Homo sapiens: one gene and its partners. The protein of the gene in region 1 purifies or fractionates together with the protein of each later gene. This does not show direct contact. Each region holds a gene or a part of one and is shown on either strand. Other genes may lie near its edges. The genes, in order: CDHR2, HIP1R, TMTC2 and TBCD.

Evidence for each region.
Region 2: the proteins of CDHR2 (region 1) and HIP1R purify together in Homo sapiens (affinity purification with mass spectrometry; one large-scale study listed by BioGRID and IntAct). This does not show direct contact.
Region 3: the proteins of CDHR2 (region 1) and TMTC2 purify together in Homo sapiens (affinity purification with mass spectrometry; one large-scale study listed by BioGRID and IntAct). This does not show direct contact.
Region 4: the proteins of CDHR2 (region 1) and TBCD purify together in Homo sapiens (affinity purification with mass spectrometry; one large-scale study listed by BioGRID and IntAct). This does not show direct contact.

Annotation. Positions count from the first base shown.
Region 1 is NC_000005.10:176,587,321-176,590,907, reverse strand, and holds part of CDHR2 (cadherin-related family member 2 precursor), read right to left. Parts: intron 1,878-3,587; coding exon 1,726-1,877; intron 1,579-1,725; coding exon 1,470-1,578; intron 1,381-1,469; coding exon 1,292-1,380; intron 831-1,291; coding exon 762-830; intron 656-761; coding exon 578-655; intron 484-577; coding exon 423-483; intron 346-422; coding exon 221-345; intron 1-220. UniProt on the Homo sapiens protein: Intermicrovillar adhesion molecule that forms, via its extracellular domain, calcium-dependent heterophilic complexes with CDHR5 on adjacent microvilli. Thereby, controls the packing of microvilli at the apical membrane of epithelial cells.
Region 2 is NC_000012.12:122,848,906-122,852,492, forward strand, and holds part of HIP1R (huntingtin-interacting protein 1-related protein), read left to right. Parts: intron 1-969; coding exon 970-1,050; intron 1,051-1,929; coding exon 1,930-2,006; intron 2,007-2,330; coding exon 2,331-2,392; intron 2,393-3,587. UniProt on the Homo sapiens protein: Component of clathrin-coated pits and vesicles, that may link the endocytic machinery to the actin cytoskeleton. Binds 3-phosphoinositides (via ENTH domain).
Region 3 is NC_000012.12:82,685,646-82,689,705, forward strand, and holds the start of TMTC2 (protein O-mannosyl-transferase TMTC2 isoform 1 precursor), read left to right. Parts: upstream 1-1,260; 5' UTR 1,261-1,941; coding exon 1,942-2,024; intron 2,025-4,060. UniProt on the Homo sapiens protein: Transfers mannosyl residues to the hydroxyl group of serine or threonine residues.
Region 4 is NC_000017.11:82,923,061-82,926,647, forward strand, and holds part of TBCD (tubulin-specific chaperone D), read left to right. Parts: intron 1-591; coding exon 592-673; intron 674-1,878; coding exon 1,879-1,997; intron 1,998-3,339; coding exon 3,340-3,431; intron 3,432-3,587.

The DNA of each region.
Region 1 (3,587 bases):
TTGAGTGCACTGAGGAATCAAGTCTCATGCCCTTTCACAGATAAGGAAACTGAGGCCCGTGGAGGGGAGGTGACTCACCCAAGATCTCGCACTGGGTCACTGGGGAGTGAATGCATGTATACCTGTGCCTAAGCCCCAGCTCCTTCTACCCCTACCCCCCGACGTCTTGGGTGGTGGGAGAGGGTGAAGGTTGGAGACACGGGGGCAATGGGAGCCGCACCTCTTCCGCACACACACGAAGGCCATGGTCATGATCACAAGGACCAGCAGCAAAGCCACTCCCAATCCTATGATGACACTGATGAGCTGTTTCGACAGGTCTGACTCCTGGCTCTCCTGGGAGCCCTGGAGAAAGATGAGTGTGAGGGAAGCACACTCGTCTTCAGCAGCCCCACCTGCTGCCCCGCCCTGCCCGCACTCACCAGCACCACCAGCCCCAGCTGCAGCAGCTGCGTCAGCGAGTCCTGATCATTCCGGATCATCCTGGCCACAGAACTCCACTTAGGCCCGAGGGACCTTGGCACACCCCAGGCTTCCTGCTCACCCTCACACCTGCCCCAAGGGCAGCCCCACTCACACACTCAGCTCATCAAGGGTCAGGGCTGACCCATTGGGGAAGACAAAGTAGGCATCGAGGTAGGAGTGAGGTCGGGCCCTGGAGCGGGACAGAGTTGAAGAGTCAGGAGCCTGGATCACCCAGCAGGCCCCTCCTGCTACCGCTTCTCCCCCTCAACCCCACCCCCAGGCCTCTGGGCACTCACCGAGCTGCAGAATCTATGTCCTGAATGTCCACAATGTATACTGTAGTCCTGGTTGCCTGGGTAAGAGCCCTGCAAAGAAGGCAGATGTCACAGAGGCCTGGGGTCTTAGCCTGGGCCTGTGGCCAGGGCTGTGCCAGTGGGATTAAGAATTGTATGAGTGAGAAAGGGCACCTCCTCTGGACAGCTCTGTTGGCTGAGTAGGTAGCATCTCTGTGAAAATTACAAAAGGAAATCCCTTCCTCTGGGGCTGGGTGAATAGCTTAGCAAGCAGAGTGCCCTTGTGCAACACACAGCCTTCACAACTGTACACGGCAGCCTTGTTCCAAGGCTTCCCTCTGCCCTTGGCTGGGTATGGGCTTCTGGGGACATGCAAGAACGTCGTGCAGGTGAAAGTACAGGGTTGAAGACAGGGACAAGGTCAAATGTGGGTCAGGAACAGGATTGAGAGACATCCCATCCAGGTTTTGTCGGGGACCAGGCTCCTACACCCTGTTCTTCCTACCCCTCCCTCCGGGGCTCCCCAGACCTACGCATTAATCGCCTGTCTGTTGGCGCCCACCTCCTCCTTCGGTGTGGAGAACTGCAGCCGCGAGCGGTAACTCTGGTCCACGGTGAAGAGCTGGGAAGGGGGTGTGCAGGAGATGAGGCACCAGGGACCCTGGGGGCTGGCAGAGGGCGTTGGGGGCTGGAGGTGGGACCAGCACTCACATTCAGGGTGGTGGTGGCTTCCAGGAAAGGACCCAAGGAAGGTCTGTCCCTGGCCTGGACTGTCACTTGGTAGGTGCCTTGGAGAGTGGAGTCGAGGCTGGTCACCGGCCTGCGGAAGGCGGGAGGCGCAGGTCAGTCTTGGAACCCAAGCTGAATCCTCAGGACCCTTGTAACCTCCAGGATGGGGGACTTGCTGCCTGAAAGCTCCTATCGGGCCCCTCCCCGCAACCTCCCTCCCGGGGCCGCCCGCAGTTACTGAATGCTCCCAGCGAACACGTCGGCCTCGGAGGAGGTGAAGATCGAGAAGACACCCTGGAAAGGGATGGTGGCCCCGTCCTTAGAGATGAAGTCTACTCGGAGGATGGAGAACAGGATGACGCCATTGTTCCCTGAATCATCGTCTCTGGCCTGGGAGCAAGAGTGGACAATATCTGGGGGCCCAGCCAGGCCAGGCATCCCTCCACCCCAGCAGGGATCAGAGGCAAGGGTGGCCTGGGAGGCTGGCCCTCACCGTCTCTATCCGCCATCCCCACGCTGCCCCGAATAAGCAAATGGTTTCAAAAAACAGTGTGTCTGCTCTGCAAATCCAGATTTGGACAAGAACCTGCCCCTGTTCCCCAACTCCAAACAGATCACTGCCCTAAGTCCCTCACATGTGGAAATCCTGCCCTGCTCCCCCTACACCCCTCCACTGCCATACTCTCTCTCTCTCTCACACACACACACTCACACACACAGTCTCTCTCACATACACACCCTCTCACACACACACACTCTCACACACTGTCCCACTCACACTCAGTCTCACCCTAACACACACTTACACACATATGCACACACACTCATACACACCCTCACACACACTCTCACACACTGTCCCACTCACACATACACTCACTCACCCTAACACACTCACACACATGCACACACTCATACACACCCTCACACACTTATCCTCTCACACTCACATACACTCACACACCCTCTCACACTCACACACTTATCCTGACACACACACTCACACCCTCACTCTCTCATGCACTCACCACACACTCAATTCACACACACTCACACAAATACACTCAATTCACACACATTCACACACTTGCACAGTCACACACATACACACCCACAATCACCTACATACCCACACACTGTCACACACATTCACATACACTCACTCACCCTTATACACACCCTCAGGCACACACATTCACACTTAGACACACACACACTGGCGTGCACACACACAGCGATGCTCAGATTTCCTAAGCACCTCCCCTGGGATCCCTCATTTCCGTGCGGGGAGTACCAATTCCCCTAGTAGACCATGAAGCTGGTTGGGGAGGGGACACAAGCATTTTTATTCATTCTAGTGCCTTTTAGAGAAAAATTTAACCAGCACACAGAGCTTCGAGTTCACCAACGTTACTGTTAAGGATAGGCCAACACCAGTGCTTAGGTCTTAAAAAGGAATCTATTTAAAGAAAATTGCCGTGGCTAAACTCTTGACATTAGAACCAAATTGGCAGAAGATTGGGAAGCTGTCTTAAGACTTGAAAGTCACACAGTCACTGTCTCTAGCATGAACGTCAACCTAGAGAGGGAGAATTACTATCCCCATTTTACAAGAGGAAGCTGAGGCTCCGAGAGACCCTGTCCTTACACTCGGCTCTAAGTGGGGAAGGCCAGCCCTGTCCATCTCTTGTACCCATGTCCTTTCCAAAGCATAGGGAATGGCACCCACATGCCACCTTCTGGGAACTGCTAGCTTCTTGTTGAACAGGGAAACGGAGTCCCAGAGAGGGTAGGCAGCTCTCCAGGTCAGTAAGAAGCCCAGCCAGGCCCAGCCCTCGGTGGTGTGGGAAGCCTCATCCCCACACGGCATGGCCACCACCCCTAATAAACTTGCCACATCCAACACCATAAACAGCTGAAAGCCTTTTTATGACTTGGCTCCAATAATTTATTTATTTATTTATTTTTTTTTGAGGCAGAGTTTCACTCTTGTCGCCCAGGCTGGAGTGCAATGGCGTGATCTCGACTCACCGCAACCTCCGCCTCTCGAGTTCAAGTGACTCTCCTGCCTCAGCCTCCCAAGTAGCTGGGATTACAGGC
Region 2 (3,587 bases), on another chromosome or scaffold:
TGGGGCTGAGCGAAGGGTGGCTCCCTGTGGGCAGTTCCCTGCGGGTGGCTGGGTTTTCCCAGGGGCGACAGTGGGAGGGGCAGCACGGGGAGATGCTGCCTGCCTTTGAGGGCCTGGCCCAGGGCGCTCCACACGCATAACCAGTGGGCCCTCCAGCGTCGAAGTCACCCGGGCCCTTTAGTCCTCACGAGTTGGGAAATGTGGCAAGACCACAGCCCGGGCACCTCGGTGGTTAGAGAGCCTGTGGCAGGGCGCAGGTTCCTGGGCTCCCCCAGACCTGCTGCTGAAGAATCAGGACTGGAGGTCTGCATTTTGAGCACACACACAGTAAGGCCTGAGAGCCCTGGGGGGCCTGCAATCTGGATGCACTGCAAGACCTCAGGAGTTAGAGATGTCCCTGGTGGGCAGAGGGCCTTGGCCTGGTTCTCTCTGGAGCACTGTGGGGTGCTCGTCTGCCTGGGCAGGGACATAGGAGCAGGGCAGGCCCTGGACCGGGTACCCACAGGGAGGCCTGACCAGGGCGTTATCCAACCCAGAACCACTGCCCGGACTCACTTCCCTTGAAGCGAGGAAAACACTGCCCATGGTGCCACCTGCAGATGCAGGCCCAGCTGGCCCGGCCGCAGGGGCCGTGGGGCTGGAGGAGGGAGCAGGGAGGATGTGTCCAGGCGCCCGTCGGGACGTGCCTCCCTGCCAGCACCAGCACTTTAATAAAGCGTCCCTGCTCAGAACTGGCCTGCCGCCCTGGACAAAGAGCTCTCTTCTCACAAGAGTTTCTTTGGCAGGAATGACAAGGAGGAAGATTAAGGGAAAAAGCTAGAGACAGAGAGGGTGGTTGGTGGAGGCCAGGAGAAGACGTTTGTTGAATGAAGAAGTGCCCGGTGGTGGGTCACTCTCGTGCCCAGGTCCTTGAGGACTCTTGGACGTGTTCACGAGCCGTGGCCCCTCACCCTGTCTGTCTTCACACAGGGACATTTGCATGACCGCTACGGACAGCTGGTGAATGTCTACACCAAGCTGCTGCTGACCAAGATCTCCTTCCACCTCAAGGTGGTTTCCTCGGGGGAGTCATGGGGCTGAGGGACCCGTGGGCTTTTCCCACTGTGACGTTATGGCACATGTTGGGACATCGAGGGTGGGATCTGTCCTCTCCATGAGTCTTTCCATTCACCTTCTTGTCCCAACTATGACTAAAGGGGAGACGGGGAAGCCAGGGCATCACGAAGCTCCTAGAACACTTCAGGCATTTCCGTGGACGTGGGCACGGGCTTCCCCAGGCGTTTCTGTGGACATGAGCGCTGGGCTTCCTCAGTCTCTGCTGTGCTGGCCGGGTGCTCCCCTCCTCCCAACCCCTCCACTGCCCTCTGCCACCTATGTGGGCCACAGCCTGGGTCTGCCAAGAGCAGGGTCCAGCGTGGGGCCCCCTGGTTCAGTGGCCGCTGGGTTGGGGGGGCCCTGGTTCAGTGGCCGCTGGGTGGGGGGGGCCCTGGTTCGGTGGCCGCTGGGTTGGGGGGCCCCCTGGTTCGGTGGCTGCTGGGTGGGGGGGCCCTGGTTCGGTGGCCGCTGGGTGGGGGGGGCCCTGGTTCGGTGGCCGCTGGGTGGGGGGGGCCCTGGTTCGGTGGCCGCTGGGTGGGGGGGCCCCCTGGTTCGGTGGCTGCTGGGTGGGGGGGCCCTGGTTCGGTGGCCGCTGGGTGGGGGGGGCCCTGGTTCGGTGGCCACTGGGTGGGGGGGGCCCTGGTTCGGTGGCCGCTGGGTGGGGGGGCCCCCTGGTTCGGTGGCCGCTGGGTTGGGGGGCCCTGGTTCGGTGGCCGCTGGGTGTGGGGGGCCCTGGTTCAGTGGCCGCTGGGTGGGGGGGAGCCCTGGTTCGGTGGCCGCCAGGTGTGGGGGGGCCCTGGTTCAGTGGCCGCTGGGTGGGGGTTCTCTCCACAGCATCCCCAGTTTCCCGCGGGCCTGGAGGTGACAGATGAGGTACTGGAGAAGGCAGCTGGGACCGATGTCAACAACATGTGAGTCACTCTGCATGGCTACATAGCCAGTTCCCCTCGGCTTCCCCATTCCTTCCTACCGCGTCTCACGCCCAGGCGTCCGCATGGGGCAGTGGGGTTGAATGAGTCCGTGGCTTTGTTGGTTGATGCTCACGCTCCCAGGGACAGAGGGTGAAGTTAAAAGGGTGGGGTGTACTTGAAGGACTGTCGTCCTGGCAGAGGCACGCTGTCTCACCAGAGCCATGGTGTCGGCGGTGCCCCCGTCCCCACTGGAGGGGGCGTCTCAGGACGAGTGGGTGGGTCCACCCACCCTTTTTCATTTCTTCCCCCACTTCTCTTGCGTAGCTTCCAGCTCACTGTGGAGATGTTTGATTACATGGATTGTGAGCTGAAGCTTTCTGAATCAGGTGAGCCGTAAAGAGGGGATGCGGGGGTCTGAGTGTATTGCTAAGTCCCCAGAGATGGGACGAGAAGAAAAAAGAAGACATGAGTGATCAGACCAACTGATCACTATGAAATGACCCTGGCCAGCCGCAGTGGCTCACATCTGTAATCCCAGCATTTTGGGAGGCCGAGGCAGGCAGATTGCTTGAGGTCAGGGGTTCAAGACCAGCCTGGCCAACATGGTGAAACCCTGTCTCTACTAAAAAAATATAAAAATTAGCCAGGCGTGGTGGCGCACGCCTGTATTCCCAGCTACTTGGGAGGCTGAGGCAGGAGAATCACTTGAACCTGGGCGGCGGAGATCATGCCGCTACACTCCAGCCTGGGCAACAGAGTGAGTCTCCGTCTTAAAAAAAAAAAAAAGAAAAAGAAATGCCCCTGCCCCTCCTGGGGTCCCTGCACCTCCAGGGATAGGTAATGGGGCCTCCTGGCCCCTCCAAAGCATGGCAGGCCCCAGCGGGTACATCCAGGATACAGGTTCAGCCATCTCTTCCATCCAGTGAGTGTCACTCCATCAGCCCCAAGACAGGGAGGGTGAGGAGGTGTGCACAGGAGCCACCTTGCCAGGTTCCTGCCCCAGCCTTGGGCCATCTGCAGAGCCCAGCTGGAAGAAAGGTTTGGGTCGTCCTGCCATTTTCTGCTCTAGAAAGCCTCTGAGTCACGTCAGACTTCCTAGCGAGGGAACCCGGCCGCTGTTGGACAGGAAATCTCAGAGGGCTCAGCTTCCAGGCTGGAGAACTGATTGTTCTGGGTGGCAGCTTCAAAACAACTCATGGGTGACTCAGTGCTCTCCATAAGAGGGCAAGAAGCAAATGCCTCCTTAAGGGAAAATTGGGAGTTAGAGGCAGTTTGGGCAGCCTCCCTGAGTCCCCAGGTCTGGCCAGTGCAGCTGGGCGAGCCTGATGGGTATTCAGTTCCAGTGGGTGGGAGGTGGGCTCAGAGTTGGACCCTTGTGCCTGGGAAGAGCCTGCTCAGGATCTGACATGGAGAGCAGAGGGCAGGTGTCCAAAGGTGTGGCCCCAACTGTGCAGCAGGACAGGGCTACCAGGCTCTGTGTCCTGGCAGAGATGTGCTGAGCCTGAGCCTCTCAGCACAGAGCCCACCAGGTAGGAGCCAGTTACCCCTGGCATGGGAGAAGGCCAGTGTGGGCAGGCAGTG
Region 3 (4,060 bases), on another chromosome or scaffold:
GATTTCTCAGATTTCCTTGTGAAATCAGGGAAATATGTAGCTTTGTTCTACAGAAGCCCAGACCACGGTATTTTCTTTCCAGGCCACTGCTAGACACCCAGGGGGCTCAATTTCTTGCCACAGTTTCGGAGAGCTTGCTGGTTAGGTGCTGCTCTTGGTTGGAACCAGTCGGCCCGCATGCAAAACAGACCTGTCTTCCACACCTTGTGGTTACTATGCAGCAGGGGGCGCTGCAGTAGTGTACATCGCGGTGCACCGGAGCTACTCTCCTGGCCAGAAAGCCAACAAGCCGGGAGGAGGCGTGTCAGGCAGCCCTGGGTCCTCTTTGGTCTTGCAACTTTAGTACCCAGAGCTTGTTCTACACAGACCATTCTACACCATATTTCACCATGTTGGATGCTTTCCATCCAGTCCTGCCTCCGAGCGGAAAGGAAAGGGCATTAGCTTACTGCCTTACTAGGTTTAAGTATAATGCTGTACCGGCTTGCACTAGAGGTTTCTCTCCTGTGTTCTCAGGGTCAACCCGACAGTCCCTCTGAAACCACGAAGGGGTCCCCGGGCAGTTGCTGCGGGGTGTGTGTGTGTCTTTCTTTCCCTTTTTGGGGTCCTTTCTTTTTAACCTTACTGAAGGAGGAAACGTTTCTCTCCCTACACGTCTTTCCACTGACATTGTGGCCAACCGTAGGCTAAGAGCTGAAATCTCTCCTTCCTAAGTTGCCTCCAAGCTCTCCAATACTACCTCCTCCCCCCCATTTAGTCTCACACACAGTGTGCGTGAGAGATCGCCAGTGAGTTTGTGACAACCGAAGCTGCAGCAGTCGCCAAACCTGTTCTTCCTCTCCCGGTCTCAGAAGTCTCTCCAGCTGACCGGACTTACGCCTGGCAGCTCTTGGCACACACAGCGCTGTGGCTGAGATTCAGCCGTGCCAGGCGCTGCCAGGCAGCAGCGGGGCGACCGACCACCTCCTCCTCGACCTCCTTTCTCCCAGCTTCCCCTCCCAGGGTGCACTGTATCTACTCCTTTGGGCTGTCTTCCAGCCGTCGCCCTTGGGTCCCGGGGGCTTTCCAGAGTGAAATCGAAGGTGAAAGAAACAAGAGGACGGGAGGCTGGTAGGAGGAGCCTCCAGGCCGGGGAGGGTGGGAGGAGCCTCCAGCCCGAGGGGCAGGGTAGGAGGAGCCTTCCGGGAGGATCTGGGTGGAGAAAGGGGCTGGGCCAAGCCGGGATGGAGGGTTGGTCACGCAGGCGCGGGGGGCCGCGTCGAGAACCCCACGCGGGAGCTTCTGGAGTCTCCAGCCACCGCTTCTCACTTCACTGGAGAAGGGAGCTGGGGCTGGGGCTGGGGCTGGGGCTGGGAGGGAGCTAATAAACATTGAATGTGCAGCAGCTGCCTTGGCGGCCGGAGTCCGCCCGAGCGACACCGGAGCAGTGCGCCCGGGAGGCGGCGAGGGGAGGCGGTTCGCCTTGTCCCTCCCACCCGCGCCTCTTTCTCTCTCTTCCTCCAGCTGGTCCCAGAGCCCGGCTTGGTCCGGTCCCTCTGCCCCCATCCCGCACCCTTCCACCTCCTCCGAGTCCCACTCCTCACCTAGGACGCCCCAAACTGCCATGGGTTAGGGTGGGGATCGCGACCCGCGCGAAAGACCAGCCCTGCGCTTCCGCCGGGGGACGCGGAGCCCAAACGCCGCTCACCGCTTGCGGGCGCCGGGCATGGGGAGTGTGGTGTGAGCCCGCACCCGGGGAGGACGCAGGAGCTGCGGAGACGGGCGCGAGGAGGAGGAGAGGAGTCGTGGATTGGAAGGACCCGAGGGAGGGAGGGTGGGGAAGCGAGGGAAAAGTGAAGCTGGGAGGAGAAGGCGGCGGAAGGTGGAGATTGATGCTTCTGTTTTTTGTTGCCGCTGCTGCCCTCGCGCTGGGAGCCGAGCCGGAGGGAAGGCGGTGGAGAGATGATTGCAGAGTTGGTGAGCAGCGCTCTGGGGCTCGCCTTGTATCTCAACACCCTGAGTGCGGATTTCTGCTATGATGACAGGTAAGGGGCCGAGAGGAGGGGGCGACGGGCTGCAGGGGGCACACTCCGCAGTGGCTCTGAAGCTTCCCTCTTTAAGGCTCAAAGTGCGTCTTGGAGGAACTGGTTCAGCACCTGATGGTTTAGGCGACACGTAAACATTAACACCTAAATCAAACACCGGGGACGTGAGGCGCGCTGGGCGGGCCGAGGGAGTTTCCGCTCCTAGTTTGCAGCAGGTTCTCTCCCTTGCTTCTCGGCTGTTGGCAGACGCTTGAGTTTCTTAGCGGAAATCCCGGCAATTTGGGAAACTGTTTAATGAACGTATTAAATTAAAGTCTTAGGTATTCCTTGATGCAACAAAGCACATTAAGTGATTTTACGTCTGGTTGGGAGGAAGCCTCTCCTCGATCCCTGATAGATCCTCCCTGTCCCGTTTCCTTTTATTGATGGGACACTTTTATTTCCCGAAGTTAAAACACACGTTTGATAGTTGCCAAAATTGTGAAAAGGGAGATCGTTCTCTGCTTTAACTTTCCCTTTTAACGTGTATAGACTTTTACTTTGAGCCAAAATAATGCTGCTGATGGTCTCTCCCGCCGCCCTAGCCTCCTTCACCAATCCATTGGGCAGCACTTTATAAAAGCCTCGGCTTTCTCATTTCTGTTTGGGAGTTGTACATTAGATGTTAGTGGTTCTTTTGTACTAATTGGAGAAGAAGACGCCCCTAGAGACTGAAGTTGTCTTCTGCACTTAGGTTAGTTTGGGTGGCTAATGAGACCTGAACTGTGTTGTCAAAGAAACTGCATCGATTTCTGGAAAATGTCACCGTTGTGTTGGTGTCTCTTCCTATCTTTTAAACGTTATTAGTGTTCAGAAAGTGATGAAAAGCCCCTATATCCATTAGGGAAAATTCCAATTTGTGTCCTTCCGGTGTCTTAATCTGATTACAATTAAAACAGATGCATAATTAAAATATATTAGGGATAACAGCACGCCTGGCTAAACTTATTAACCGTCCTGGGGTGTTTCATGCTCCATTGAAATTAAACCATCCAAAAAGTGAGCACAGATTTACTTTGACAGCTTTTCAGCAGCCTCTCTGAGCTATGAAAAGTGAATGGATCCCCAGGGTTAGGGCGAGGCAGTGAGAGCACTTACGCAAAGTGGTTGACAGTGAGGGGAGGTGAAGGCAGAATCTTCTTCTCGTCGTAATTAGCCACATTCTGTATTCTCTGGTGTGCCCATTCTCCTGCTAAAAGCATCTTCACATCTCTGTTAAAAAATCACCTGATAATAGGTGCCAGAACATCCAGCAAACCCGTCTTAATGCATTTTATGTAGTGCCTACCAGAGGCTAGTTGATAGGGAACCACTGTTAGACATACATTTTTTCTTAACTTTTACGCAGCATACTGATTTTAGCAACTACACAGCATGCTCTGAGAAATGGTCTGTAGGAGTGAGGTAAATTTCTGTTCTCTCCAATTTTGTGTAATGGTGCACCTGCTATTTCTAGCATATTCGTGGAAAAAGCCCTTGTTTCCAAAGATGGGTGACTTTTCACTAAAACCAGCTTGGGTCAGTGTGGGCAGTTACTGGCTCTGTTGGGGGCGGTTTGAATAGTAAGCATTTAAACCAAGAATATAGAGTTTATTTAAAAAAAGAAACTTACTATAATAATGCAACTTGATGGGTGACTTTTCACTAAAACCACCTTGGGTCAGTGTGGGCAGTTACTGGCTCTTGGGGGCAGTTTGAATAGTAAGCATTTAAACCAAGAATATAGAGTTTATTTAAAAAAAGAAACTTATTATAATAATGCAACTTGTTATAGAACACGGTGGTGAATCAAGTATTCCTATTGTATGCCCTTGTTCATTGCTGTCTAATCCTTAAGAAAATACACATCAGAAGAAGCCATTCTTTAAAAATTAAGGTTAAATTTGGATATGCATTTTTCTATAGGTATAATTGTTCTGTGCTCTTGAGTCATCAGAAGTGTTAGGACTGGACCTTGTAACTTGGAAGAATGGTGTGAGTGTGATGATAAATTAGTT
Region 4 (3,587 bases), on another chromosome or scaffold:
TTCCCAGTGCGCCCCCGGAGCCCTGTCTCTCTAAATGAGGCTGACGTGGCTTGGCCTGAAGGCCCTGCCCCGTTACTCTGGGTGCATAGTGTATGCCTTTTTCTTCATAACTATTTCTGGGAAAGAAAAATATGCTCCATTTTATTATTGTTCCATATTAGAAGACAGACATTGTGGAAGGAATAATCAGGTTATCCATTCAGTTTCTTAGTTGTAGTGGTAGTAAAGTGATGCGTGTATCTGACAGATGATGGTGAGCAGGCGTGCTGGAAAGGAGTAGCATGACTTAGGGGTTCTTTTGGTTTGGTTCGAAAGTCATTGCTGTGCCGAGATCTCAGGGTGACCCGCTGTGTCCCTGGTCAGGTCCTTCTCTGACCTCAAGGGTGACCTGCTGTGTCCTTGGCCGGGTGCTTCTCCAACCTCAGGGCGACCCGCTGGGTCCCTGGTCAGGCAGGGGCTGCTCTGACCTCAGGGTGACCACGGTGTCCCTGGTCAGGTGCTTCTCCGACTTCAGAGTGACCTGCTCTGTCCCTGGCCGGGGGCTTCTCCGAGCAGAGCTGCTGTGCGCTCACCGTGCTGCCTTTGTTTTAGGATGCAGCAGTCTCGGCCCTGGCTGCTCTATGCAGTGAATATTACATGAAGGAGCCGGGGGAGGCAGATCCCGCAATTCAGGGTGAGTGGGGAGCCCTTTTCTTGAAGACTCCAGGGGCTTCCAGCAGGAAGCTGCTGGGGAGTGTCTGGGCACGGAGGAGGCCTCGGTTGTGCAGTGGAGCAGAGCCACCACGATCATGGCTGGAGTGGGACTGTTCGGGTCTCAGGTTCCCAGCCGAGGAGCTGTGGGCAGGTCCTGCAGCTGCCCAGGATGTTGCATCAGCTCTGAACAGGTGGCTCAGCAGGGACGCGTCTCTGTTGACGGCACCCTCTTGCTCCATCACCCAGGCTGGAGTGGTGTGGCGTGATTCGGCTCACTGCAACCTCTGCCTCCTGAGTTCAAGCAATTCTTGTGCCTCAGCCTCCTGAGTAGGTGGGACTACAGGTGCCTGCCACCATACCCGGCTAATTTTTGTATTTTTAGTAGAGACGGGGTTTTACTGCATTGGCCAGGCTGGAATCGAACTCCTGACCTCAGGTGATCCACCTGCCTCAGCCTCCCAAAGTTCTGGGATTACAGGTGTGAGCCACTGCACTCGGTCAGTGTTTTTAGAATTTTTGTATGCACCGTGACATTTTTCTGCTGTGTGTTTCACTCGTTAATACATTTTGCTGTTTTTTCCTTCTTTATGAAAGTAGCATTAGGCTGGCTTTACGCCGTGTCCCGTGCGTAGCTGCTGTGCCGCCTCACTGTACATCCTGCACCCCCGTGCTGAAGTTCAGGCTTGCTTCTCGCACATCATGTTCGAGGGATCTGCTTCATGAATCGTACTTTTATTTTTAAAGTGTCACATGCACATATGTTGGCCCACAGTGTTCCTTTATGTCATATGATAGAACATGCATTATTAATCACGTCAAAAGTGTGTGAATCACCACTTAAAATTATTATAAGTATATAAAAATCATGCATTAGCTTGGCATGGTGGCACACACCTGTAATCCCAGCTACTTGGGAGGCTGAGTGTGGGGTTGAGGCTGCAGCGAGCTAAGCTTGCACCACGGCACTCCAGCCTGGGTGACAGAATGAGACTCTCTCAAAAAAAAAATTCTCTTTCTGATTCCTATTTTGAGGTAGGCCACTTTGGAAACGTGTCTGCTTTGGGAACCTCAGGCGGCTCCTCCTTTGTTCACTGTGGCTTTGCTCCTGTTTGGGGCACACGTCGGGTGTGGCTGTACACGATGGGCAGCAGAGGGCCTCTCTTCACACTCGTTGCTTCCTTTCAGAGGAGCTGATCACGCAGTACCTGGCTGAGCTTCGGAACCCCGAGGAGATGACTCGCTGTGGCTTCTCGTTGGCCTTGGGCGCCCTTCCAGGCTTCCTTCTGAAAGGCCGGCTCCAGCAGGTGAGGCTGGCCACGCGCAGTGGACGGGGCCTAGGGCGAGGGTGTGGGAGCCTCGTGTGTTGGGGCATGAGGTAGGCCCAGCCGTTAATAAACCCATCAGTGCTTGTAGCTGGGAGGGGGTTCCTGGAAACCGGCACCTGTGGCCAGGAGGAAGGGGGCAGAGGGCACCCAAGGTCTGTGGCCCCTTAGGGCCCTGGCGAACCCTTTGCTGTCAGAGGACAGACTTGAAAAAGCTGAATTCTGGGAGGGAGGAGAAGGTGTTGTTTGTAGAAGCAGCTGCCGAGAGTGAGGAGAACACAGTTGCCTTTGTGCGTTGTGGAGCCGGGTCCTGTTTTGGTTGCGGCCGTGCATCCTGCATCCAGGTCGGGGCAGAGGTGGTTCCACGTCCTCCCAGAGGTCAGCCCCACGCTGGCCTCAGTGACCTGCTCTCTCACGCTTTCCTGTGGTGCTGGTCCCACTGACCAACCTGCCGGGAACTCCTGCTTGTCTCCCCTCCGGCCACCTGGCGTCTGAAGCTGGAATAGGCCCTGGCCACTGGGTTCCCCACGCCCTTCCCTCCCCATGGGATCCAGCCTTGGCACTTCAGGATCTGCAGCTCCAGACGGACTCCTGCCTGTGTGGCGGGTGGGCCTCGCAGCCGCCATGCCATCTAAAACTCGCATGTGGGGGTTTATCCAGTTGAAACACAGATAAATGTGAAACAGGATCACTTGGAGATATGACAGATGAGGTTGTCGGGACCCAGCAGCTTCCTTTGTCAATACCCCAGGTCTCAGCGTAGGACAAAAGGGGGGGACCTCAGGTAGGGTGTGGCCAGACCCCCAGTGACACCCTGGGGTGGGGGCTGGCCGTGGAGAGGCTGGAGGTGACCTCTCCCCGGGTGTCCTTCCTGGGTTGTACTGGGGGCCGTGGAGAGGCTGGAGGTGACCTCTCCCCGGGTGTCCTTCCTGGGTTGTACTGGGGGCCGTGGAGAGGCTGGAGGTGACCTCTCCCCGGGTGTCCTTCCTGGGTTGTACTGGGGGCCGTGGAGAGGCTGGAGGTGACCTCTCCCCGGGTGTCCTTCCTGGGTTGTACCGGGGGCCGTGGAGAGGCTGGAGGTGACTCCTCCCCGGGTGTCCTTCCTGGGTTGTACTGGGGGCCGTGGAGAGGCTGGAGGTGACCTCTCCCCGGGTGTCCTTCCTGGGTTGTACCAGGGGCCATGGATGGCCGTGAGGAAGGTGGTGCCAGGAGCTGCCTATCTCATGGTGTGGGGTCTGTGGCTCCGGGCCAACATTGCCACCTCCCTAAAGAGTGCACTTTGTTATAGCTTATGGTTCTTCTGTGATTCTTTATTGCTTTCCAGGTTCTCACAGGTTTAAGAGCAGTTACCCACACTTCCCCCGAGGACGTAAGTTTTGCTGAGTCCAGGAGAGACGGCTTGAAGGCCATTGCGAGGTGAGTCCCAACAGTTCCTCCCTAAAGTCGTAAGTCTCTGAAAGGCCAGCAGATGAACGCTAAGGGGGATGTTTTTGCTCAGAGGCAGGACTTATGATTCTTCACTTCCTAGGTTTCCTCTCTTCCAGAGGATCGTCAGTCCCAGCTGCTGGAGGC